7 linked regions of the Homo sapiens genome follow. The protein of the gene in region 7 purifies or fractionates together with the protein of the main gene of each other region. This does not show direct contact. Each region holds a gene or a part of one and is shown on either strand. Other genes may lie near its edges.

Region 1 (2,824 bases), on a different chromosome or scaffold from region 7:
TTCTACAGCATGGCCACGTGGAGGCAGCGGCAGGAGAAAAAGCAGCTGGGCTTCTTCTGAACCCAAGCCCTCTCGACTGCCCCTATCCCCTGGACCCCAACATACCTACAATGCTGGGGAGGCCCTGCTTCCACTCCCCTCAGAGGCTTTTGGTCATCCTCTGCGTGTCAGTAAAAGCAGGCAGCCCATACGAGCTGTGGTATGCGTGCTTTCAAGCCCGGGCCACTCAGCAGGTCCACCTCTCAGGGGAAGGGGCCTCCAGGGCTGGCGGGTGTGAGCTCTCAGTGCCACCCCACAGAGGGGTTTATTTCTCGTTGGTCTCTCCAGATACCCCTGCCCTACTCAACTATGTGCAAGGAAGGTGGAGAGTGAGGTGCTAGGGCTCCAGCACTCTAGGACATGGGGACACACACACACACACACACACACACACACACACACACACACACACACGCTTCACAGGGGATTTTTCTGGCATCCAGGTAAAGAGACCACAAGGCTTAATCTTATCGTGATTTTTATAAAAATCCTTGACCACTCGCTGGCCGGAGGGTGGAGAGGGCTGCAGTGTTATTCCTAACGGAATGAAGGACAGCTCCAGGGACTGGGCTAGCTCCTGGTCCCCAGGGAGGCAGCAGCAGACACTATGTTAGGGCTGAAGGCAATTTGGGGGCCTAGCTCTGAGCAAGAGGCTGGGAGCAGCCACACCAGCCCTGTCCCCACATGTGGACAGAGGGCCCAGCCCACTCAGGGGGGACCCCACTGGCTTCCTCCAGCCTAGTCCTGGAGGGAGATCTTCACAAAGAGGGTGGCTGATGGATGCTGGTCCCCGTTCTTAGACATGAGGTGGACATGGCGGTATCCTGGTGGGTGGACAGGCAGGAGGGAACACAGAGAGAGTTCTGGTCATTCGGCGGCGGAGGGGGGGTGGATGCGTCAAGGGACAGCCAGCCCCAGCCCAAGAGACGCCAGGCCCTGCTTCCCACCACCTTGGCCATCCCCTTCTCTTGACACTCACCTTGCTTGAGGCTGTTCAAGGGGATGGTACTCTGGCCAATGAAGTCATTCTTGGAGGAGGCATCATAATCTTCCACCAAGAAGCGGATGAGGGCAAGGTCAGGCACAACTACCTCAAACGCAAACTCCGTGTCCCACCATGGGTTGAAACCTAGGGGGACAGGCACCATATCAGCAGCATGGACACCAGCCCTAGTAGCCCAGCCCAGGCCCAGCACCTACCATTGTTGGTGATGACAGCAGTCTGGCGGCTGGCCACGTCCCGGCTCACGCCATGGATCTCCACTGTCACTTTGGGGTCCACAATTGAATTCTTATTCTTGTTGACTTTTGGCAGCTGCTGCCCCGAAATGACCTGAGGAAAGGCAGAGGACAATGGACAGTTCAGGAGTGGTAGCGGGGAAGGGAGGTCCGTGGGCACCTGTCCCTCCTAGGTCCAGCGTACCCTGATGTTGAGCCGCTTCCGTGCCCACCAGGGCCCCTGAGCCAGGGCGCGGGGGTTAAAGGTGCCGTTGGGGTCTCGCAGGAAGGCGGGCTTCAGCACGTACCCACAGGCCCCGTTGTCCTGGAAGCGGCCCTGGTACACGTCCATCTCTGGCCCAGGTGTCTGGAAATTCAGGGCCACTACAGGCAGGACAGAGCAGTCACAGGCTGTGGGCTGGCCCTGGGGCCCTAGAGCACAGCCTGCTCAGGGTACACTAAGGCCTAGGGTCACATGGTGAGTTAGCAGGGCCCAGCATCACTCCAATGCCTGCTGCCCTCCTGCCACCCTCAGTGACCCACCATGCTAACCACACCTTCCATTCCTGGTGTGAGAATTCAAAGGACTAGTGTGCTAATGAGGTTTCAGACACTGTGACATGCTGGTGGGCAGATATTTCCAGACTGATATTACCAGCTCCACAAGCCCCTGCATTTGACCCTGCTTGGGTCCTCAGAGCTCCACTGCATGGCCTTCGAGGCTCCAGGCCCCCGGCCTTGGGACTGAAACCCTCCTCCAGGCCTCCTCCAGCCCCAGCCAGCCCATACCGATCTGGCAGCCCCCATTCCACATCTCCACGGGGCTGTAGTTGGAGGAGTCTGTTCTCCATCCAGCCGGGTAGATTCTGCTCAGGTGCCCCACGTTGTGGCGGACAAAGCCGTTTCCTGAGGGGAGGTGTGGTTCGGTCAGCAGTGGAGGCCTCCTGGTGAGGCCCAAGCCCTGCCCTGCCAATTCTCTCTGTAACAGAGCAGGGGAGTGGTGGGGAGCCAGGCCTCACCTGATTCTTGGAGCAGTCGAAGGGCACGGTTCTCAGAGAAGGACGCCATCTCGTAGAAGGCCTGTCCAGGGGTGCCAGGACTGGAGAAGCCCCCAAAGTGGACACTCTTGCAGTAAATGACCATGTCAGAGAGCTCCTGTGCTAGCCTGAGCTTGTCCTCCTGGGGAACACGGGGAGGCCCGGGTTAGATTCAGTGGTTGGGGTAGGGTAGGCACTGAGAAAGCCAGAAACCCAGGCGCAGAGAGACAGAGGGAGACAGACAGAGAGAGCGGGGCAGAGGGTCTGAGTGGCAGCCACAGAGAACTGAGACAAGGCAGACCTCCCACGGGTGAGGGGATGGGGAAGGCCCGGGCTGCCCCACCCCACAGCTCCCCCTCAAACCTTGGGCTTGTGCTGCACACGGCTCCTCACTGCCTCATCCTCCATCTCAGCAGCCTCGTCTTCGTCTGACACCACAGTGGCCTCAGGGCCACCCTCCCCTCCAGGGGGCAGGAGCCCCCCGAGCTTCTTCCCCTTCAGCAGGATCTTCCCCTTCAGTTGCTAGGTGG
Region 2 (3,500 bases), on a different chromosome or scaffold from region 7:
AGTCAGCTTTATGCCTACGAAAAGTAAGCAATGTGTTTCCATTTTATTTATTCAACATAAACAGTAGTGTTGCAAAGAGAAACACAACTTGGTAATGGACTTAAGTAGTTGGTTAATTATTGTTGTTAGGAACTTAAAGCCATATCCCAGAGTTTTATTTTAAGTCTAGAAATGAATAGAAGCTCTATGAAGGCAGAAACCATGTCTGTCTTCTTTACCTGTATATTCACAGAGCCAAGACTAGCACCCAACACCTAGTTGCTTCTAAGTAAATATTGTAGAATATATGAATAACTACAGAGTGCTTTTGGAGAATATCTGGTTGCCAATTGAAAGCTCTACGATTCAGGTCAATGAAATTGGTTAAGCCATATTTCATGTATTTTTCTGACATAATTGGCAACAGTAGGGAAAAAATTCCCTGTAAGTGGGGAAAACTCTAATATTTCCCCAATAACTCTTTCTACTTTAGGATTGTCATTTTTTTTTGCTATTCTAGATTAATTTACAGTTAATCATATAAATCAATAAAGTTCAATAAAAATATATATTTTTCTTTGATGAACCATTTCCAGCCATGCTTTCAGTTGGCAAACTCTTTTCTTATTATATTAAGCATCTCCTATTGCTTAATAGCGCATAATATTGAAAAATCTTTTGAAGAGACAAATGACTTCAGATATCTAAAGATATTGACAGATACTCTACGTTCCTTTTCAATTTCCTTTCAGAATGTACATTTCATTCAACTTTTCAATTAAAAATTTTAATATAAATATTTCCCTAACGAAAAATATGGCTGGTGGATGTAGACAGGGCTTCTTTTGTAACTTCCAAGAACAAGGCATCTTGGTTTACAAGATTGGTTCTACAGGCCTCAAGACCCATAGGATTCACAATATGAGTTATGTGCTATTCGTTAGACAGTATCAAGGGATGCAATACATTTTCTGCACATTTTTTGACGCATTATTTAAAATCAGAAAGAATTTTAAAAAGGCTTATCTAAAGTGCCTAGCCATATTCACCCTCAAAATGGTATAATCAAATAATGGCATTGACCTTAGAATATCTGAGTATTTGTTGACTATTAATATATATGGTACATTATATATTTTTGGTGGATGTATTGATGATTACAAGGTGCAAGGTCTCCACATAGAATACTGACCATAAAGCACTTACTGTTGGGTGTAATGTATGTTACTGTATCGTGTTACTCTGTGTCGAGATGTCATGGGGGATGTGGAGCCAACGGTTTGGCCTATGGGAAGGTCTGGACTCATCATTTGCATCACTTGAATTTCTGGCCCTACTAAAATATTGCCGCTCATCACAGGTCCCATACAACCCTCAGTCGTGCTACTATTGCTCATGTCAGGCACACCAGGACTAGCCAGTACTCTCTCAGCATAGATTACATTGTTGTAATCTGCTAACTCAGCAGGTACACAAATATTCCCTTGAATATCATAGACAGGTGCCATTACTGCTTCGGTTACTACAACATTGGGTGCAAGCTGAGGATCAAAAATAATTGTAGTGGGTTGCACACATGGATCAGCATTACCGTAAGTCTCAGTCACAATAATATCCCCATGGACCACGGGTTCAGATGCTGCCATTTCTTCTTGGAATTCAACTTCTGAGGGAGTCAATCCTGAAGATTCATTAACAAAGTAATTAGGTCCGAGCAAAGGGAGGTCAGTACTGATTGGTATACAAGCCTGGTGTGAAGGAAATGGTTCAATTTCTGTGTTTAAGCAGATCTCAGCAAGAGTCCTAAATTTTGGATCTAAAGTTTCCATGCAGCTTTCATCTAAGTCATCCACAATCCAACTGCAACAACCAATAGAGCCTACGGGAGACCCGACTCCCTCGTGGTCATAAATGAGCAAGCAGTCATTGGCTGGTCGACCTTCATCTTCATCTGCATAAGCATACGCTTTCTAAAATTAAAAGGAAATACAGAATTAGAAATTTCTTTTTCCCTAAAATAAGGAAGAATAACAGCAATCCCTCAGAGAGACTTCTGAGTTAAGTTGTTACGGAATAAACTGAATAATGGTATCAATCACTCATTAAAATAATTGATACTATCCATGCACATTCTGTGATAGCATTTGTAACTACCAATTTTAAGATATAGTTTACAATTGCAACAACATCTTCAGCATTTGTTTGGTAAAGAATCATGGTGAAATTCATGTATGAACAGATGGAGAATAAAGCAGGCCGACTGAAATATGAGATAAAATTCTAGTTCTATTTTAGTTCTTTTAAAATGTGTAATAAATTATTGTTAACTATAGCAATCCTGTTGTGCTACCAAATACTAGATCTTCTTCATTCTAACAGTATTTTTGCACCTATTAACCATCCCACTGTTTCCCCTCCCTACTACCCTTGTCAGCCTCTAGTAACCATCATTCTACTCTCTATCTCCATGAGTTCGGTTTTTCCTTTTAGCTTCCACAGATGAGTGAGAACATGTCAAATTAGTCTTTCTGTGCCTGGCATATTTCACTTAACAGTGTCCTCCAGTTCCATCCATGTTGTTGCAAAATGACAAAATTTCATTTTTTATGGCTGAATAATATTCCATTGGGTATATGAATCACATTTTAGAAGTCCAATCATCAGTTGATGGACACAGGTTGATTCCATGTATTGGCTACGTGACTAGTGCTGCAATAAACATGGGGGTGCATATATTTCTTTGATATACTGATTTCCTTTCTTTTGGATATATACCCAGCAGTGCTATTGCTGGACCCCTTTTCGTAGTGAAGGTCAGTTGGTGGATAAGTCACTGGACTGAGAATAGGAGAGCTATCTTCTAGGTCTTAATCTAGCACGAGTTGTGGTGATGCTGCGTTCCTGAGTTTTAACTCCTTTCGTTCCCAATTCTTTTTATTTTCTCTTTTCTGTTGGAGGCTCCGGGAGAACATGAAGGACATCAAAAACAGAGGTCATAAATGCACCTTTTTTCCCCTTGATGAGCATTTTCCTGCTTTGCTACTGCTGTGGGAAACAAGGTGAGGAATCAAGGAAACAAAAGATAGAAAAATGGAAAAGGGAAGTGGAGAATGATGAGGGGTGTGGCCTTGTTCACGGTACTAAGATGCGCTATGGCAGTTGAATATGAAATCCTGTGGCAAATTAGCATTTTGTGTTTTAAGGAGACGTGAAATACTTTTTATTCAGGTTTGGGATAGGGTTGAGAATAACAGCATATTTCCGAAGAGGCCTACTACCATTGTGAGTATTTTACTATTATTATTATTCAATCTCAAGACGATTTTATGTGTGACTGTGAGGGCATTACCTCCGAGAAGTAGCTGTCCAAGAAAGCCATGTTGATGTCTGCGTCAGCGTAGTCCCGCAGGGTTCCCATGGTAGAGCTCCTCTTCCTTGCGGCCCCTGAGGCTCCTGCGGCCCCTGCGGCCATGAGGCCAACGGCTGTCCCCATACCTGTGTTGAGCTCCACTCCCGATACA
Region 3 (3,500 bases), on a different chromosome or scaffold from region 7:
TTCTTTTGGCTTAGGATTGACTTGGCGATGCGGGCTCTTTTTTGGTTCCATATGAACTTTAAAGTAGTTTTTTCCAATTCTGTGAAGAAAGTCATTGGTAGCTTGATGGGGATGGCATTGAATCTATAAATTACCTTGGGCAGTATGGCCATTTTCACGATACTGATTCTTCCTATCCATGAGCGTGGAATGTTCTTCCATTTGTTTGTGTCCTCTTTTATTTCATTGAGCAGTGGTTTGTAGTTCTCCTTGAAGAGGTCATTCACGTCCCTTGTAAGTTGGATTCCTAGGTATTTTATTCTCTTTGAAGCAATTGTGAATGGGAGTTCACTCATGATTTGGCTCTCTGTTTGTTATTGGTGTATAAGAATGCTTGTGATTTTTGTACATTGATTTTGTGTCCTGAGACTTTGCTGAAGTTGCTTATCAGCTTAAGGAGATTTTAGGCTGAGACAATGGGGTTTTCTAGATATACAATCATGTCATCTGCAAACAGGGACAATTTGACTTCCTCTTTTCCTAATTGAATACCCTTTATTTCCTTCTCCTGCCTAATTGCCCTAGCCAGAACTTTCAACACTATGTTGAATAGGAGTGGTGAGAGAGGGCATCCCTGTCTTGTGCCAGTTTTCAAAGGGAATGCTTCCAGTTTTTGCCCATTCAGTATGATATTGGCTGTGGGTTTGTCATAGATAGCTCTTATTATTTTGAGATACATCCCATCAATACCTAATTTATTGAGAGTTTTTAGCATGAAGCGTTGTTGAATTTTGTCAAAGGCCTTTTCTGCATCTATTGAGATAATCATGTGGTTTTTGTCTTTGGTTCTGTTTATATGCTGGATTACATTTATTGATTTGCGTATATTGAACCAGCCTTGCATCCCAGGGATGAAGCCCACTTGATCATGGTGGATAAGCTTTTTGATGTGCTGCTGGATTCAGTTTGCCAGTATTTTATTGAGGATTTTTGCATCAATGTTCATCAAGGATATTGGTCTAAAATTCTCTCTTTTGGTTGTGTCTCTGCCCGGCTTTGGTATAAGGATAATGCTGGCCTCATAAAATGAGTTAGGGAGGATTCCCTCTTTTTCTGTTGATTGGAATAGCTTCAGAAGGAATGGTACCAGTTCCTCCTTGTACCTCTGGTAGAATTCGGCTGTGAATCCATCTGGTCCTGGACTCTTTTTGGTTGGTAAGCTATTGATTATTGCCACAATTTCGGAGCCTGTTATTGGTCTATTCAGAGATTCAACTTCTTCCTGGTTTAGTCTTGGGAGGGTGTATGTGTCGAAGAATTTATCCATTTCTTCTAGATTTTCTAGTTTATTTGCATAGAGGTGTTTGTAGTATTCTCTGATGGTAGTTTGTATTTCTGTGGGATCAGTGGTGATATCCCCTTTATCATTCTTTATTGCTTCTATTTGATTCTTCTCTCTTTTCTTCTTTATTAGTCTTGCTAGCAGTCTATCAATTTTGTTGATCCTTTCAAAAAACCAGCTCCTGGATTCATTAACTTTTTGAAGGGTTTATTGTGTCTCTTTTTCCTTCAGTTCTGCTCTGATTTTAGTTATTTCTTGCCTTCTGCTAGCTTTTGAATGTGTTTGCTCTTGCTTTTCTAGTTCTTTTAATTGTGATGTTAGGGTGTCAATTTCGGATCTTTCCTGCTTTCTCTTGTGGGCATTTAGTGCTATAAATTTCCCTCTACACACTGCTTTGAATGTGTCCCAGAGATTCTGGTATGTTGTGTCTTTGTTCTCATTGGTTTCAAAGAACATCTTTATTTCTGCCTTCATTTTGTTAGGTACCCAGTAGTCATTCAGGAGCAGGTTGTTCAGTTTCCATGTAGTTGAGCGGTTTTGAGTGAGTTTCTTAATCCTGAGTTCTAGTTTGATTGCACTGTGGTCTGAGAGACAGTTTGTTATAATTTCTGTTCTTTTACATTTGCTGAGGAGAGCTTTACTTCCAACTATGTGGTCAATTTTGGAATAGGTGTGGTGTGGTGCTGAAAAAAATGTATATTCTGTTGATTTAGGGTGGAGAGTTCTGTAGATGTCTATTAGGTCCGCTTGGTGCAGAGCTGAGTTCAATTCCTGGGTATCCTTGTTAACTTTCTGTCTCGTTGATCTGCCTAATGTTGGCAGTGGGGTGTTAAAATCTCCCATTATTATTGTGTGGGAGTCTAAGTCTCTTTGTAGGTCACTCAGGACTTGCTTTATGAATCTGGGTGCTCCTGTATTGGGTGCATATATATTTAGGATAGTTAGCTCTTCTTGTTGAATTGATCCCTTTACCATTATGTAATGGCCTTCTTTGTCTCTTTTGATCTTTGTTGGTTTAAAGTCTGTTTTATCAGAGACTAGGATTGCAACCCCTGCCTTTTTTTGTTTTCCATTGGCTTGGTAGATCTTCCTCCATCCTTTCATTTTGAGCCTATGTGTGTCTCTGCATGTGAGATGGGTTTCCTGAATACAGCAAGCTCCATCAGCTCCTTTAAGCACTTCTCTGTATTGGTTATTCTAGTTATACATTCATCTAAATTCTTTTCAAAGTTTTTAACTTCTTTGCCTTTGGTTTGAATTTCCTCCTGTAGCTCGGAGTAGTTGGATCATCTGAAGCCTTCTTCTCTCAACTTGTCAAAGTCATTCTCCATCCAGCTTTGTTTTGTTGCTGGTGAGGAACTGCGTTCCTTTGGAGGAAGAGAGGCGCTCTGCTTTTTAGAGTTTCCAGTTTTCCTGCTCTGTTTTTTCCCCATCTTTGCGGTTTTATCTACTTTTGGTCTTTGACGATGGTGATGTACAGATGGGTTTTTGGTATGGATGTCCTTTCTGTTTGTTAGTTTTCCTTCTAACAGACAGGACCCTCAGCTGCAGGTCTATTGGAGTTTGCTAGAGGTCCACTCCAGACCCTGTTTGCCTGGGTATCAGCAGCGGTGGCTGCAGAACAGTGGATTTTCGTGAACCGCGAATGCTGCTGTCGATCATTCCTCTGGAAGTTTTGTCTCAGAGGAGTACCCGGCCATGTGAGGTGTCAGTCTGCCCCTACTTGGGGGTGCCTCCCAGTTAGGCTGCTAGGGGGTCAGGGGTCAGGGACCCACTTGAGGAGGCAGTCTGCCCATTCTCAGATCTCCAGCTGCGTGCTGGGAGAACCACTGCTCTCTTCAAAGCTGTCAGACAGGGACATTTAAGTCTGCAGAGGTTACTGATGTCTTTTTGTTTGTCTGTGCCCTGCCCCCAGAGGTGGAGCCTACAGAGGCAGGCAGGCCTCCTTGAGCTGTGGTGGGCTCCACCCAGTTCGAGCTTCCCGGCTGCTTTGTTTACCTAAGCAAGCCTGGGCAATGGTGGGCGCCCCTCCCACAGCCTCGCTGCCGCCTTGCAGTTTGATCTCAGACTGCTGTGCTAGCAATCAGCGAGACTCCATGGGCGTAGGGCCCTCCGAGCCAGGTGCAGGATATAATCTCCTGGTGCACCGTTCTTTAAGCCCGTCGGAAAAGCACAGTAT
Region 4 (3,500 bases), on a different chromosome or scaffold from region 7:
AGACCAGCCTGGCCAACATGGCAAAACCTGTCTCTACTAAAAATACAAAAATTAGCTGGTCATGGTGGTGGGCACCTGTAATCTCAGCTACTGGGGAGGCTGAGGCACAAGAATCTTTTGAACCCAGGAGACAGAGGTTGCAGTGAGCTGAGATTGTGCCACTGCACTTCAGCCTGGGTGTGACAGAGCGAGACTCCATCTCAAAAGAAAAAAAAGAGAGAGAGACTGGAAAAAGAGACCTAATCAAGTAAAGGAAAAAATTTAATTAAAAAAATCTAGACTATGGAAGATAATTAATATGTACAAGTTTTATTGATCAATTTATTTAAATTTACTAAAATAATTTAGAATTAATTGTGCTGCCTAAGTCATCAGGCATTTCAGCAACAATTGCTTTTAACTCAGTTCGAACTTAAGAAGGGATATTGTGACTTTTTAAAGCCCTGAATCAAGTTCTTTTCTGAACTTGGTCAACTCCCAGCTGCCATTTAGATGGTTTTAAAGTATTCGGTCCTGGATTTACGCCATAAACTTAATAAGATTCTGCTCCAGCAACATGTAGTAAAAACTGTTTTTCTCTTGGCTTTTTAAAGTAAACAAACAAACAAACAAAACAGTTCTCATAAATTCCTTTTAATCAATTCCTTTTCTTTCCATCTTACTACATGCTTTTGTCACTTCATTAAGTAGATACTATGTGCCAGTTTTTCTGCTAGGTCCTGATAACTGTTAAGATGAACAAGACAGGGTTTCTAGTTCCAAGGAGCACAGAATCTGGTGAAGACAGCAGATATGCCAGTGAAGGATTATGACAGAAGGTGACTGAGCCTCCTGTAAATATGAGCAGCACTCTGTTTTCTCCTGACCTCATATTGCGTTCCCACAGCAGCTCCGAGGCTGTTCTCAGTGTATGCTGATCTTCACTTTTATTGAGTGTTTTCTCTGGAAAAAGGCCAATAAAAACATTTCATTTCTCTTTTGGACAATATATATTTCTAAGAGCCAGGTTTTTCTGCACCAAAACCTTACAACCAATGGTCTGCACTGGTTTTCCAGCCATGCTTAAGCCCGTATTACCAACATTTCTGGTCCCAGTCGCCTCTGCAGGGGAGTCTCTTCCACTAGCGTGTTTCTGTTTCCAGCCCTCAATGGATACCTCTTCGGAAACTTCCCGGAGCCTGATATGTGTGTTGGAGAATCTGTGTCCTGGCACCTATTTGGAATGGGGAATGAAATAGACATCCATTCTATCTATTTCTATGGTAACACCTTCATCAGCAGAGGGCATCGGACTGATGTCGTCAACCTGTTCCCAGCCACCTTCCTTACAACAGAAATGATAGCCGAGAATCCTGGGAAGTGGATGATAACCTGCCAGGTCAGCGACCACCTACAAGGTAAAAAGGATAAAGACCAGAGTTGATATGTTTAGAATGGTACAATCAAACCACACAGTCACTAGTGCTCATCCAGTACCTACTGTTAGATAGAGCCTTGTATGTACTATATTTAATTAGGTAATAAATATACAGGAAAATATAACGCTCATCTCTTTGATATTCTATCAACAGATATTTATTGACCACTTCTGTATGAAAAAAGTGGGGAAGTGATTAAAAATTGATGAGACCTTCGAGGAACCTGTAGTATAGTTGTTAGACATAGTTAGACATTCACAAAATGAATACGATTTAAGGCAGAATGAGATAAATGCTCTTTGGGTGTTGCAGTCACTACTCTGGAGCAATCAGAGGGGCTTCCTGAGGAGCTGGCTCCTAACATGAGCCTTGAAATATGAGTAGGAACTGAATAGATGAAGAAGGAAAGAAAGACTTTTGAGGAAGCAGCATGAACTGGGAAAAACACATGTTCTTTTTGAGCAACTGTAAGTAGAGTAATAAGGTTTTAGCACTGGAAAGGACTTTCTGGATAATAAGGACCAATCCCCCCTCGAATTATTTAATTTCGTTTTGAACATCTCTTGTGAGTAGTTATAGCAGCTCATCTCATCTCTGGACTGCTCTATTGGAATGTTCTTCCTCAAATTGAGACAAAATCCATTGACCTATAGCTTCCTTCATGTCCTATGATAGGTGCATGATAAACATTTGTTGGCTTAAATGCCTGTTGAATGACCTGGTCCTGGTTTCTTCAGACATCATACACTATGTCCTTTCTTAGCTGGACCATAATGTTCCTTACAGAGAAGTGATGACAGAAGAGCCTGGGAGGCTCATCAGGCCCCTTAGCAAAGCTAAGGAGGTGGGGCTGTGTGATCCTTAGCTCTTTTGGCACACTAGTGACATAATCGGTGCAGTTATTTAAGAAGATAAATGTATGCATGCAAGAAGGACTTGATGGAGGAATTCTGACCACTGGATGCTAGTTAAGAAGCATTTGACAGTGTTAGAGGTCTAACACCTAAACGTCTGCCCTAAGATGATGAAACCAAGACAGAAAAAATATGTTAATGGAATAGACACAGAAGAAATAATGTCTGATATTTGGATACTAACTTCCCATAGTCACTAATAGGTGCAAAGATCCAGCTGCTCAGGGCTGCTTTTGTAACACATTCTTGTTCCTGTCCACCTTCCACAGTGAGTCATAGCATTAGTCAACTGCAGTATCCCAATTACATTCAACTGAAAAATTAATCAGTTAATATGTACTAGATGCTCTTCTGGGAAAACAAAGATTAACAAGAGAAGGTTTCTATTCTCAAAGAGTCTTATGCTGTTAAATCTGGGAAGAAACTGTAGATTTAAAATCAAGATATTAGCTGCCATTTGAGACTAGTAAGATCGCTAAATTAGCCCGATAGTTGTGGACATAAGCTAGTATTTATACGTTCCCTGAAATACAGTATTTCTAAATTGTCCATGCCTTCAGAAAAAAGTTATTGTAAAAAAATTAGAAAATACATATAATTGGAGGTTTTTTAACAAATAGAGACAGGGTCTTGCTATGTTGCCCAGGCTGGTCTCAAACTCCTGGGCCCAAGCAATCCTCCCACCTTAGCCTTTCAAAGTGCTGGGATTATAGGCATGAGCCACTGGATCTGGCCCCTATAAATTGGTTTTAAAATCAGTAGTTCCATAATAGAAATATTTTATATTCACATTTTGGTGAATATCTTCCCTATTTTCTATTTCTTAATATGTAAATATATATGTATTTTAAAAAATGAAATCAGTCTATTAATGCTGCACTGTAGCTAATTTTTCTCATTTACAAATATATCAGAAACACATTTTCATGTCGGTGAATATAGAGCTTACTTCATCATGGTTAATACTTCCAGTGTCCATTATAAGGAGATTACATCTTGCTTAATCAATACTCTATTGCTTAATGCTTATGTTTCCCACCAATTTTTTTGCTATTATAAACAGCACTGATGACTATTATTTATAGATGTTTGCACTTTTGTCTGAACATTTTCTTAGAAAAACTCCTAGATTTAGAATTTCTGGGTCAAAGAGTATGATTTTTTTAAA
Region 5 (3,500 bases), on a different chromosome or scaffold from region 7:
AGCATTTCGTTTTTGTCTTCTTAATGTGTATATCCAGATGTCTTTTAAAAAGTTCTGAGATAATATTACTTATAATGCTTTATATTCTGGTTTAATTGTTACAGTGTATGCATTTTTCTATCTAAAACATTTTTCATGTCTTCATAGTTTATTCCATTGTGGTATGTCTTGTGGATATGCCATAACATATTTGGTAATTCCCTTATTGGACATTTGAGGGATTTTTCCTATGTTTTCCTATTGTACTCAATTTGATCTGCACTTCCTGAGGATGTGTTCCAGAGTTGGTATTTCTGGGTCAAAAACGCATTTTATGTCATATGGCCAAATTGCTTTCCAGAAAGTGTACACTCCCACTGAGAAGGTCTGAACAGTTTTTGTTTTTTGTTTTTTGTTTTTCCAGATAGAGTCTCGCTCTTGTTGCCCAGGCTGGAGTGCAGTGGTGTGATCTTGGCACACTGCAACCTCCACCTCTCGGGTTCAAGCAATTCTCCTGCCTCAGCTTCCCAAGTAGCTGGGATTACAGGTGTTTGCCACCTCGCCCAGCTAATACTGAGCAGATTTCATATATAAAGTTGGACTTTGGTTAAGCACTTTGTCCTCTGGTATTTTTTAGGACAAACATAGTTTTGTTGATGAAGTAGAACGGTATTTTAAAATTATCCTATTAGATACTGCTCTGTTTGTGTTTAATATATTTTAAGAAGTTCCTTTTTATATTTCAGCAACTGCCAAGACTGATAACTATAGAGAACATAATTCTTTCTGAGACAAGTTCTTGCTCTGTTGCCCATGCTGGAGTGTAGTGGCATGATCATGGCTTATTGCAGCCTCCACCTCCTGGGCCCTGGCTCAAGAGATCCCCCCACCATAGCCTCCCAAGTAGTAGGGACCACAGGCGTATGTCACTACGCCTGGCTAATTTTTTTAAACAAGATTTTTGCTGCTGGGTGTGGTGGCTCACGCTTGTAATCTCAGCATTTAGGGAGGCAGAGACAGGAGGATTACTTGAAGCCAGGAGTTGAAGACCAGCCTGGGCAACATAGTGAGGCCACATTCTCCACATTCTCTCTCTCTCTTTTTTGTTTTTCAGACAGAGTCTTGCTCTATCACCCAGGCTGTAGTATAGTGGCATGATCTTGGCTCACTGCAACCTCTGCCTCCTGGGTTCAAGTGATTCTCCTGCCTCAGCCTCCCAAGTAGGTGGGACTACAGGCACGTGCCACCACACACAGCTAGTTTTTGTATTTTTAGTAGAGACAGGGTTTCACCATGTTGGCAAGGCTGACCTCGAACTCCTGACCTCAGGTGATCTGCCTGCCTTGGCCTCCCAAAGTACTGGGATTACAGGCGTGAGCCACTGCACCTGACCAAGGTCATATTCTCTTAAAAAAAAATATATATTTTTTTTTTGTAGAGACTTCATCTCACTGTGTTGCTCAGCCTGGTCCCGGAACTCCTGGGCTCAAGAGATTCTCCTGCCTCAGCCTCCCAAAGTGCTGAGATTACAGGCAGGAGCCACCACGCCTGCCCCTGAGAACATAGTTCTTTTTTGTTGAGCTTCCCAGGCAAGCCATGTAAATATAAATACAGCTCATCCCCTTTACTTATCATGCTGCTATTTTGTTTTAGAAGTATTGGTAGATTGCATATTCCATAACCCTGATATATTTCAGTATAATCCTTACCTAATCTTGGACCTATTATAGTGGGATGCTGCTTGCTTGCTTGTGTGTGTGTGTGTTTTTTTTTTTGGCGGGGGGATGGAATCTTGCTTTGTTGTCCAGGCTGAAGGGCAGTGGCATGATCTCGGTTGACTGTAACCTCTGCCTCCTGGGTTCAGATGATTCTCCTGCCTCAGCCTCTCCCCAGTAGCTGGGATTACAGGCTTGCGCCACTACGCCTGGCTATTTTTTGTATTTTTAGTAGAGATGGGGTTTCGCTACGTTGGCCAGGCGAGTCTTGAACTTCTGACGTCAAGTGATCCGCCCGCCTCGGCCCAGGCATGAGCCACCACGCCCAGCCTATGAACCTATATTCTTACTTCAGTATGCAAAATGTAGCATAATGTTAAGAATGAGGTTGCTTAAAATCTAGGCTACACACATAGTTAGGCCTGCCTTTTCTTCGCTCTTTTCTTTTTTTTCTTTTTCTTTTTTTGTTTTTGAGATGGAGTCTCACTCTGTCATCCATGCTGGGAGTGCAGTGGCACGGGGATTCAAGTGATTCTCCTGCCTCAGCCTCCCGAATAGCTAGGACTACAGGCACCCGCCACCACGCCCAGCTAATTTTTGTATTTTTAGTAGAGACGAGGTTTCACCATGTGGGCCAGGCTGGTGTCAAACTCCTGTGATCTGTCCGCCTTAGCCTCCCAAAGTACTGGGATTACAGGTGTGAGCCACCGTGCCCGGCCACCATTTTCTTGAAAGCTCATTTTGTCCGGAGAATGTTTTAATGCCAATACATGGACTTCATCATTTGTAAATAGTTCTTATCAGAGGAAAATCTAGGAAAAGAAAGGAAACCTACATTTCTCTCCTTCATAATTTAGCTATTTCGTTTCTAGCTTTTGGCAATCTTATTTCAATAAAAAAATTAAAAAATTTTTTTTTTTTTTGAGACAGAGTCTCACTCTGTCACCCAGGCTGGAGTGCAGTGGCGCGATCTCGGCTCACTGCAACCTCCGCCTCCCGAGTTCAAGCGATTCTCCTGCCTCAGCCTCCTGAGTAGCTAGGGTTACAGGCGCACGCCACCATGGCCAGATAATTTTTGTATTTTTAGTAGAGACAGGGTTTCACGATGTTGGCCACACTGGTCTTGAACTCCTGACCTCAAGTGATCCACCCACCTCGGCCTCCCAAAGTGCTGGGATTACAGGTGTGAGCCACTGCACCCAGCCTACCCGTTTCTTAAAAATATTAAATTGACGTTACAGGTTTTCATTAACCCTTATATGAATATTTTGGTTACTGCCATTATTTTCTACTCTTAAGTGACTGAAATGTTTAACTTTGGTTTTTGTCTTTTTTTCAGAGTTCCGGTAATTTCAGAAATGAAATGATTTGACTAGTTTTATCCTTTGAATTTTTCTGTCATTCTTTCCTTTTTTTGAGACAGGGTCTCACCCTGTCACCCAAACTGGAGTAAAGTGGCATAATCATGGCTCACTGCTGCCTCAACCTCTTGGGTTCAAGCAGTCCTCTGCCTCAGCTTCCTGAGTAGCTGGGGCTACAGGCATGTGCCGTCATGCCCAGCTAATTAAAAAAATTTGTTTTTTTGTAGAGGTGGAATCTTGCTGTATTGCTCAGGCTGATCTTGAACTACTGGGCTCAAGCTGTCCTCCTTCCTTGGCCTCCCAGTGTTGGGAGTACAGGCATGAGCCTGTACTGTGCCTAAGTCCTCCCATCCTTTCTGTAGTAGGTATTGCCCTAAGTTAGGATTGATCATATTCCCTATGATCATCATTATTATTTTTTTTTTTGAGGCAGAGTCTCACTCTG
Region 6 (3,500 bases), about 50 Mb from region 7:
GGAGTTGCTGGTATTGCCAGTGTGGCTGGTGAGGAGCCTGGTCACCTCCGGGAACACCTGGTTCCCTGGGAGAGGAACGAGTTGGGGCACAGGGTCAGGATGACTGGGGAAGGAAGGGCTGAGGGGTTCCCTCTGGGGCCACACTCTTCGATAGCCTTCTGCCGGGCTCTGAGCCAGGTGGCCCTCAGGGCTTCCTGGCAGCTCCAACTCAGGGCTCAGAGACCCAGATAGGACTTTTGCAGATCTGCTCCCAGCCCTCAGGTGACAGGCTCCCTTCTCCTGTCTCCATACCTGTCTTTGGCCAGCTTCCTTTCTTGGAATGCTCATCCCAGGGAATGGCTTAAAGGATGACCTTCAAGCAGGCTTGAATTGTAGGGAGCCTGCCATGTCTTAGCTAGAGGGGGAGGAGAGAGAGGGACCTTACCCATCACTCTGTGCAGCAGAGGGTGGCGGGACATGTTGCTCAGGAGGGAGGCTCCGGACCGCACCACATCAGAGTTGCCAGATTGCAGGAGGCGGGCAATTTGTGGCAGGCCCTTTTCCTTCAGCCCAATCAACTGGCTCATGCCACTGGACATCTAAGAGAGAAGGAGTAGATGATGAGCTAGCCTGTGGCTTCCCAGGCACCATGGCAGGCAGAAAGGGGCAAGGAGCCCCAAAGGCAGACATCCCAGAACCCTTTCTCTTTCATATTGGAAGCACTAGCTCACATGTGGGCAACTACAGAAACCTAGGCTAACATGCACCTCCCCTTTCCCAGCCCTGATCCTGTCTCCTGGATCAGCCTGCAGCCCAGATGGGTGGAGAGAGGGAAGTCTCATTTCCCCTACTCATAGTGACCCAGAGTTAGCTTCCAGAGTAACCCAAGCGTCCAATGCTGCTCTCTCACCCCACTGTCTCAGCGCTGCCCCCATTACATCTCCCCACGCTATCTGCCCATGTGAAACTATATGGTCAAGGGTATTTGTCAATTAAACATCTGGCCATCTTCTTCCAACTTTCCTACCTCTTTAGAATCCAACACATATTTGTTGAGGGCTTGCCTGAGAAAAGAGGGCTAAGAAAGGGTCTGGGCCCACATGGAGAGAGAACTGGGGTCCCCTAGAGGTAGGCCAGTTCGCCCAGGCCTCTAAGCAACATAGCTATCCTGGGTGTAACAGGTCTAGGTGGGTTTGGCATTCTCAGAACTGCCCAGCCTCTCTCCTCACAGCCAGGGAAGTTCTCTGCCCTCGGTCTACTCTAGTGCTGCTGCTGCTCGGTTCCCTTTTCCTAAGTAAAGCTGAAGAACAGTTGGCCGCCTGGCCCATCTCAACTCTTCTTGATTGCAACAGGTTTCCTCTGGCTCTGCCCCATACCACTGTGCCCTCCAAGCTACATACATTTGGCCTCAACATCTGCACGGATTCTGTCACATCTTCTCTGGACCTGCTTGGACCCCAAACCCTCTTTTTCCACCTTTGTCAGTTCAACAAATGGGAAACTCCTTTTGCCAAACACCTTCTCCGCCGCATTCCCCGACCTCAAGCAGAGCCCAGGAGGCCAGCTGGGGACCGGGAGCCATGTGGCCAAGGGGATTGTGTGTGCATGGACAGAATCCAGCATCAGTGGGCCCACCCTCTCTGCATCCCCCAGCAGCTCCTAAAGGGCAGGAGTGTTTCCCCATTGCCCAGCCCAGAGCCCAGCATATGCCAGGCACACTCTGCTCATGGGAGGCTCCGAAGTCAGGGGACAGGCTGGGGGGAAAAGGAGGGAGCAGAGGCTGGACGGTGGCTGGAGGATGGGGCTGCTGCAGTAGAGAAGGTACAGTCCCACTCACCAGCCCCTTGCTGGCTGTCAGGTTCTGCAGGGCACCAGCACAGGCCTCCAGGGTAGCATCTTTCTTGCTCTTGCCCATGAGGTTCAGGTAGGTGCGGATGGCATCTGAATGGTACAACCAGCCGCTGCCCTTGGGGTTGGTCTCTTCCTCAGGCAGGGGGCAGTCATAGTTGTTGTTCTGAGGATAAAGAGCCGGTCAGGGGGGTCAATGGGGAGCCTTGTGAGAGGACACAACCCAGGCATTCTGTCCCCATCCCCCCAGCCTCAGGGTCGTGGTTCCAGATAGGGCAAGCTGAGGAAGCGCCTGCAGAGGCAGGGGGCCCAGGACAGCCCCGCTGCACCCCTTTCCTCTATGCACTGCAGCAGCTCCATGGGATGCAGGAATGGGCCATGGTCCCCCAGACTGTCCCAGGATGTGGGAGAAGAGAGCATCCTGGCATCTTGGGAGCTGTGTTCCAGGGCAGCCTTGGCCCAAACCTTCCAGATATGTGGGGCTGCTTTGGACTCTCCCATCATGATGCTTCCTCCTCTTCCAGACTCAGACAGTAGGTTTGACCCACCCTGGGCCAAAGAGGGTGGTCTGAGACCTGGATTCCACAGCTGGGCCCAGTGAAGGAGACCTGACAACCCATCCCTGGTAGGCTTCTGCTTCTGGGGAAACCTGGCAGGGCTCAGGAGATGGTGGGAACCAAGGCCAGAAAGAGTGAGAGTTCTGGCTTTCCTCAGATCCTCAAGGGCAAGGGAGAAGATGGGGGAGACTTGACCCACTATACAGGAAGAAAGACCAAGGCCTGCAAACAGAAGGCTGGAGTTTTTGACCTCTAAGGTGGTCTGAGCCCCTACAGTTCCAAGAACAGATTCCCCCTTGTGCAAGATGAATGGCCTCTACCCAGCTCCCAGAGTGCACCCTGAGCCCCAGGCCAAGGTGTCAGCATGGGCCTGTCCCTTAGGGCTGGCTTCAGGCTCCAGGAGGGCCCAGAGGAAAGGGCAGATGAGGCAGTGGCTCCTGGGGGGGTGCTTGATGGGGCAGGCCCCGCCCTGCTGATGCTGTGCTCACCATCATCTTGTCGCTCTTGTTGCTGAAGCAGCCAGTGGAGGACTTCTCGGTGTAGGCGTTGCGGGCGTTATACTCCAGCTGGCGGTAGCGGGTGGGCACCTCGGCGTCCAGGCGGTAGGAGAGGTTGTGCAGAACACACATGCAGTTTTCCACAGACTGGGGACCAAGGAGAGGCATGGGCCTGAGCCTCTGCCCGGCCCGACAGGCTCCTGGCCTACCACCTACCCTAGCTAATAAGAGAGCAGAGGCACCTGGGCTGCATCGGGAAAGATGAGCGCAGGCACCACCACACTATCAGCCTGGGAAGTCTTCCAGGGCCACCTCTGGGACCTGAGTTTGAATCTGTCATTTCCTGGCTGCATGAACTTGACTGGCCTCACTTCTCTGGGCCTCAGCTATCTCAAATGTAAAATGAGACTACAATTGTCCATTTCACTAGGCTATTTGGAAGATGATACAGAGAAAGCACTTATCACAGGGCCTAGTGTGTGGTAGGACTGCTATGGACAACATGCCAATGGGCAGACTGGGATATTGAAGAATGTGTCTTTTTTTTTTTCCAGAACAAACTCCTCCAGAAGAAGCCCCATGCCTCTAGATTCCAAAGCCATCTAGTGCCCCCATCATT
Region 7 (4,001 bases):
CCAAGCTGGGGTGATCCTCCCACCTCAAACTCCTGAGTAGCTGGGACCACAGGCGCACACCACCATGACCAGCTGGTTTTTTTGAATTTTTAGCACAGATGAGGTTTTCCTTTATTGCCTGTGACTGGTCTTGAACTCCTGGGCTCAAGTGACCTGCCCACCTCAGCCTCCCAAAGTGTTGGGGTGACAGGCATGAGTCACCGTACCTGGCCTGCTTCTCTTTTTTTAATGATCACATCTGGGTCTCTCCCCTGAGAGACTGAGGCACTGGTGGGGGCAAGAGGAAAGACCCCAAGGGAATAGAACTTAGGCAGCCAGGTTGCCAGATAGCTCACCTATGGGGAGTACAGGAGAGGAGTGGCCTGTCCTACAGCCCCTTCTCCAGCATCTGGGACCCCTCCCTCTATATTCTTACTGTGTTTGTAGACTGCCAGGCACTCCTGCAGCTGGGGTGGGGTTCGAGTGGCAAGAATTTCAATGGCCACGTCCACAGCAGAATCTGAGGCCTACAAGAAATTGGGAGTCTACTCTCAGACTGGCCGTGTCATTAGGATGGCAGACAGAGGGGCAGACGCTGGCTGCTTCTCCTTCTAAGAAACAATATGGGACGACGAGAGGGGGACTCTCGTCTTGCAAAAGCAAGGCTGACAGCCTTCTCCCTTCCCCAGACACCCCAGCAAGTCTCCCCTCCTGCTACCTTCAGAGCTGTCCTCAATTCCTGGGCGTCAAACTGGGCTGTGGGCTGCAGCAGAGCCATCACAATCCTCTCCAGGTTGCCGGAAAGTGCTGCCTGTAGAGACTTCATCAGGTCCTACAATAAATGGTCCTCACAGCAGAGGGACGGGGGTGAGGGGAAGGGCCCCAGAAGTGTGGGGAGGTTTGGGAAGATTTGGCTGGTTTTCATCTCAGGCCCTGTTTAGCCAGGAAGCAGGGGCTGGCCTCAGCGGCTGTTGCTGTCTCTCGAGTCCTCCAGGGGGTTTCTCACCCCAGTCCACTGCTGTGGGAGGTCAGCATGGCCTCACCTGTTGGGTGCGCTCCTGGAAGTTTCGTGAGATGAGCTGCCTTTGCTCTCTGCTCCGGTTGGTCAGCACGTCCACAATGGCACTGCGGTCCACGCCTGAACCGAGATGAGGGCTGTGCTGTGAGCAGGGTCTTTACATAGTGGGATGTTCCTACTCCTTGGAGGAGGGAAGGCGCTCCAGGAGAGGGCTGGGAAGGAAAGGAGCAGGGGCTATATCACCCCCACTTCCATTTTATCTCAAAAGAAGTTGCAAATAAAATGTCAAAACAGCATGCAAATCTGACCCAGACCAAGGCAAAGGTGGCCTGGTGTGGTGGTTAAAAAAAAATACGACTTGGGGGGATCGGCTGACCTAGATGAGAATACCACCTCCGTCATGAGCTGAGTGACCTTGGGCAAGCCTCTTAATCTCCCTGAGCCCCAGTTTCCTCATCTGGAAAATGGAAATAATAAGCCTTGCCTCACAGGGGTGTTGTGAGAATGGGTTTGACACACCTACTGTGGCGCCTGACATACAAGAATGAAGGCATTCCACAAACATTTCTCCAACATCACTAGTTCCTCCTTCCTGGCTCCTCCTTGGTCTACAGATTGGCTCTAAAAGGCAGTCTCAAGTGCCGGGGGAAAGGGGCTCACCTTGGCCAGTAATGGCCCTCAGTAGCCTCTGCGCATCCTTGTCCACGCTGAAGTTCAAGAAGGTCCTGAGGGTGCCCAGGGTCCCCCACGCTGCAGTCTGTGGGAGCACAGGGTAGTTGGCAAGGGCCAGGGCCAGGCTGCCTACACCTCCTCAGCATAACCTCAGGGCCTGTCCTCCACTTTCCTGCCTCCCATCCTCTCACAGCCCGAGCTGAGATACTAAAAGTGATCTCTAAAATCCCAACAGCCCCTACCTTGCTGGCCAGGCCCAGGTGGCTGAGGATCTCCTGGGTGAGGGACGGTGCCATCTTCCCGCCAGTCACAGACATGGTGCTACTGGTTGCCCTGGGGAAGGAAACAGGAGCCCACAGAGCTGAATTTCCTGGCCCTTCAGGGACTCCTTATGACCCCCCCGAGACCCTGGACCCTGGGTTCCAGTCACCTGTTCCTTTCCTTGCTGCAGAAAAAAAGATCAACCTGCTTAGGCTTGGAGCCAGAAATGGAGCTGAAATGGTGAGGTAAGAGGGGAGCCCCCACCTTCCCCACCTCTCCCCACTCCTTTAGGAAGTGGGGATTGATGCGGAATGCTCCTGGACCAGGCGCCAACCCTCCCTGATGCCAGGGTCAGCACCAAAGCTCCTCAGGCCTTGGTCCGCGGTAGATGCCTCCCTTCTGAGGTCTATGGCCCTCCTTCCTGGGCCTGGCTGGGGTCTCCTGGGCAGTGCAGGGGAGCTGAGGTGAGGTGGCAGGATTAACCACGCAGAGTGGAAGACAACTCGAAATAGCATCTTCCCCCACCGGCAGCCCCAGCTGACAAGCAACCCTCAATTCCTGCCTGTACAGCTGCCTACCTGCTCAGCAGCACAGGAGCACAGGCCGGAATCTCTAGGTCAGCAGGTGCAATCTCTTAGCTGATGTGAGCAAGAGTTCTTGCAAGTACGTGGATGCCTGGACAGAAAGGAGGCACTCTCATGTTGGAAAAGGAAAACTCATTTTTCCCTCCCCCAAGCAATCAACAAGCCCTCCTGGCATGGGGCCGTGGGCCCAGTACTTACTCAGAGGTGCCAGAGGTGAGGTGGGTGTCGTTGTTGTGGCCTGGTAGCTTGCCTGTGTGAGCACTGCCTCCGGTGTGGCCTGGTAGAGGAAAGTGGGGGTGTGTGCAGCCTAGGCTGAACAGCCAGTCAGATGACCTCTCTTAGGGACGAACCCAGCAGTTGTCTGACTCTGGCCCCTCCCAGACGTGGGAGAGGACCGGGCTGTACAGAGTCCCACATGCAGACACCTTCCTGCCCAGCATCTCTTCTCCCAGGAACTGGGCCTCAATCCATGTGAGTGAACTCCACTCAGCCTCTCAGCGGCTCAGCCTCAAACACAGGAGGCTTTTATGCACTGCCTTCCCTGTGGGTCCAGGTGGGACCACAGAGACCTAGTCTCAAAGTCCAGCTTCTGACCTGGCTCTGCCCCAGCTTCTGACCTGGCTCTGCCTCTGGCTCCAGCTCCCTGGGGGGCAGGTCAGACAGGCTGCAGGCTGATTTCAAGGCTGATAGGGAAAAACCTGTTGGGGCACATACCAGCAGGGCACCCCAGCCTGCACCCCAGAGGGGGTCCCAGCCCAGAAACTCCCTTGACTGCTGCCTTACTAGAGCCAGCTGACCTAGGTGGAGAGTGCCCAGGGATTGTGTATATCTGTGGAGAAGGAAGGGCACAAGTATTTGGGAGTGGAAGTTGATGAACAGAGTCAAGAGAGAAAAATGCAAAGGGTGTTACCTTCAGAGGGAAGCTCTATGCTCCCAAAAGGCAACAGGGAGATGGGGGAGGCTCCCTTGCCTGGTTTCTTAGATTGCTTCTGTTGCCTTTTGGCAGCCTGGGCCCTGTGGCTGTTTTAGCTGCAGGTGATGCAACCCCAGCAGCTGGACTTGAGGCTGTCTCTGCACAGAGCAGCAGGTGAACAGCCCTGTGGAGCCCCCGCCCCGCCATGCAGCAACTGCTCCAGCCTCACAGCTGGCTCCCTCAGGTCTAAACACAGCCTCTTTCCTGCCTCCCTGGAGAGCCTGGGTAGGGGCGGGGCACAGAAGCTACAGCCCTGCCTCCACTCACTCCTCTGCCTCTCTCCCAACTCAGGAAGGCCTTCACTGGCATTCCTACATCCCTGGAGGAGGGACCTGCAGTGGCTCCACCACACTGAGTAGACCATGCCGGAGGACACGCCATGAAAGGATATTTCTGTGGCGGTAATCACTGCTCCTCACTTTTCTCTCCTGTTAAAAGGAAAACATGCACCTGTGTCAGAACTGGAGAATGAGGGTTCAATATCCAGCTCTGCCACCTATGTTCTGTAAGCTTC

The links.
Region 1: the proteins of ANXA9 (region 7) and PLCD1 purify together in Homo sapiens (affinity purification with mass spectrometry; one large-scale study listed by BioGRID and IntAct). This does not show direct contact.
Region 2: the proteins of ANXA9 (region 7) and DSG4 purify together in Homo sapiens (affinity purification with mass spectrometry; one large-scale study listed by BioGRID and IntAct). This does not show direct contact.
Region 3: the proteins of ANXA9 (region 7) and TRIM69 purify together in Homo sapiens (affinity purification with mass spectrometry; 2 studies listed by BioGRID and IntAct, with this or other methods). This does not show direct contact.
Region 4: the proteins of ANXA9 (region 7) and HEPHL1 purify together in Homo sapiens (affinity purification with mass spectrometry; one large-scale study listed by BioGRID and IntAct). This does not show direct contact.
Region 5: the proteins of ANXA9 (region 7) and ARL8B purify together in Homo sapiens (affinity purification with mass spectrometry; one large-scale study listed by BioGRID and IntAct). This does not show direct contact.
Region 6: the proteins of ANXA9 (region 7) and PKP1 purify together in Homo sapiens (affinity purification with mass spectrometry; one large-scale study listed by BioGRID and IntAct). This does not show direct contact.

The regions. Positions count from the first base shown.
Region 1 is NC_000003.12:38,006,996-38,009,819, forward strand, and holds the end of PLCD1 (1-phosphatidylinositol 4,5-bisphosphate phosphodiesterase delta-1), read right to left. Parts: intron 2,817-2,824; coding exon 2,658-2,816; intron 2,437-2,657; coding exon 2,277-2,436; intron 2,164-2,276; coding exon 2,047-2,163; intron 1,642-2,046; coding exon 1,463-1,641; intron 1,373-1,462; coding exon 1,240-1,372; intron 1,169-1,239; coding exon 1,019-1,168; intron 864-1,018; coding exon 778-863; 3' UTR 501-777; downstream 1-500. Other genes in the region: VILL (villin-like protein), read left to right, coding at 1-60. UniProt on the Homo sapiens protein: The production of the second messenger molecules diacylglycerol (DAG) and inositol 1,4,5-trisphosphate (IP3) is mediated by activated phosphatidylinositol-specific phospholipase C enzymes. Essential for trophoblast and placental development.
Region 2 is NC_000018.10:31,411,277-31,414,776, reverse strand, and holds part of DSG4 (desmoglein-4 isoform 2 preproprotein), read right to left. Parts: coding exon 3,329-3,500; intron 1,950-3,328; coding exon 1,182-1,949; 3' UTR 1-1,181.
Region 3 is NC_000015.10:44,739,528-44,743,027, reverse strand, and holds part of TRIM69 (E3 ubiquitin-protein ligase TRIM69), read right to left. Parts: intron 1-3,500.
Region 4 is NC_000011.10:94,066,354-94,069,853, forward strand, and holds part of HEPHL1 (ferroxidase HEPHL1 precursor), read left to right. Parts: intron 1-617; exon of another isoform or gene 618-942; intron 943-1,081; exon of another isoform or gene 1,082-1,142; coding exon 1,143-1,397; intron 1,398-3,500. UniProt on the Homo sapiens protein: Is a copper-binding glycoprotein with ferroxidase activity. It oxidizes Fe(2+) to Fe(3+) without releasing radical oxygen species. May be involved in the regulation of intracellular iron content.
Region 5 is NC_000003.12:5,128,792-5,132,291, forward strand, and holds part of ARL8B (ADP-ribosylation factor-like protein 8B), read left to right. Parts: exon of another isoform or gene 1-24; intron 25-3,500. UniProt on the Homo sapiens protein: Small GTPase which cycles between active GTP-bound and inactive GDP-bound states.
Region 6 is NC_000001.11:201,321,506-201,325,005, reverse strand, and holds part of PKP1 (plakophilin-1), read right to left. Parts: intron 3,029-3,500; coding exon 2,873-3,028; intron 1,994-2,872; coding exon 1,817-1,993; intron 579-1,816; coding exon 425-578; intron 66-424; coding exon 1-65. UniProt on the Homo sapiens protein: A component of desmosome cell-cell junctions which are required for positive regulation of cellular adhesion.
Region 7 is NC_000001.11:150,981,091-150,985,091, reverse strand, and holds the start of ANXA9 (annexin A9), read right to left. Parts: upstream 2,801-4,001; 5' UTR 2,713-2,800; intron 2,606-2,712; 5' UTR 2,509-2,605; intron 2,003-2,508; 5' UTR 1,987-2,002; coding exon 1,912-1,986; intron 1,755-1,911; coding exon 1,658-1,754; intron 1,118-1,657; coding exon 1,023-1,117; intron 812-1,022; coding exon 698-811; intron 507-697; coding exon 416-506; intron 1-415. UniProt on the Homo sapiens protein: Low affinity receptor for acetylcholine known to be targeted by disease-causing pemphigus vulgaris antibodies in keratinocytes.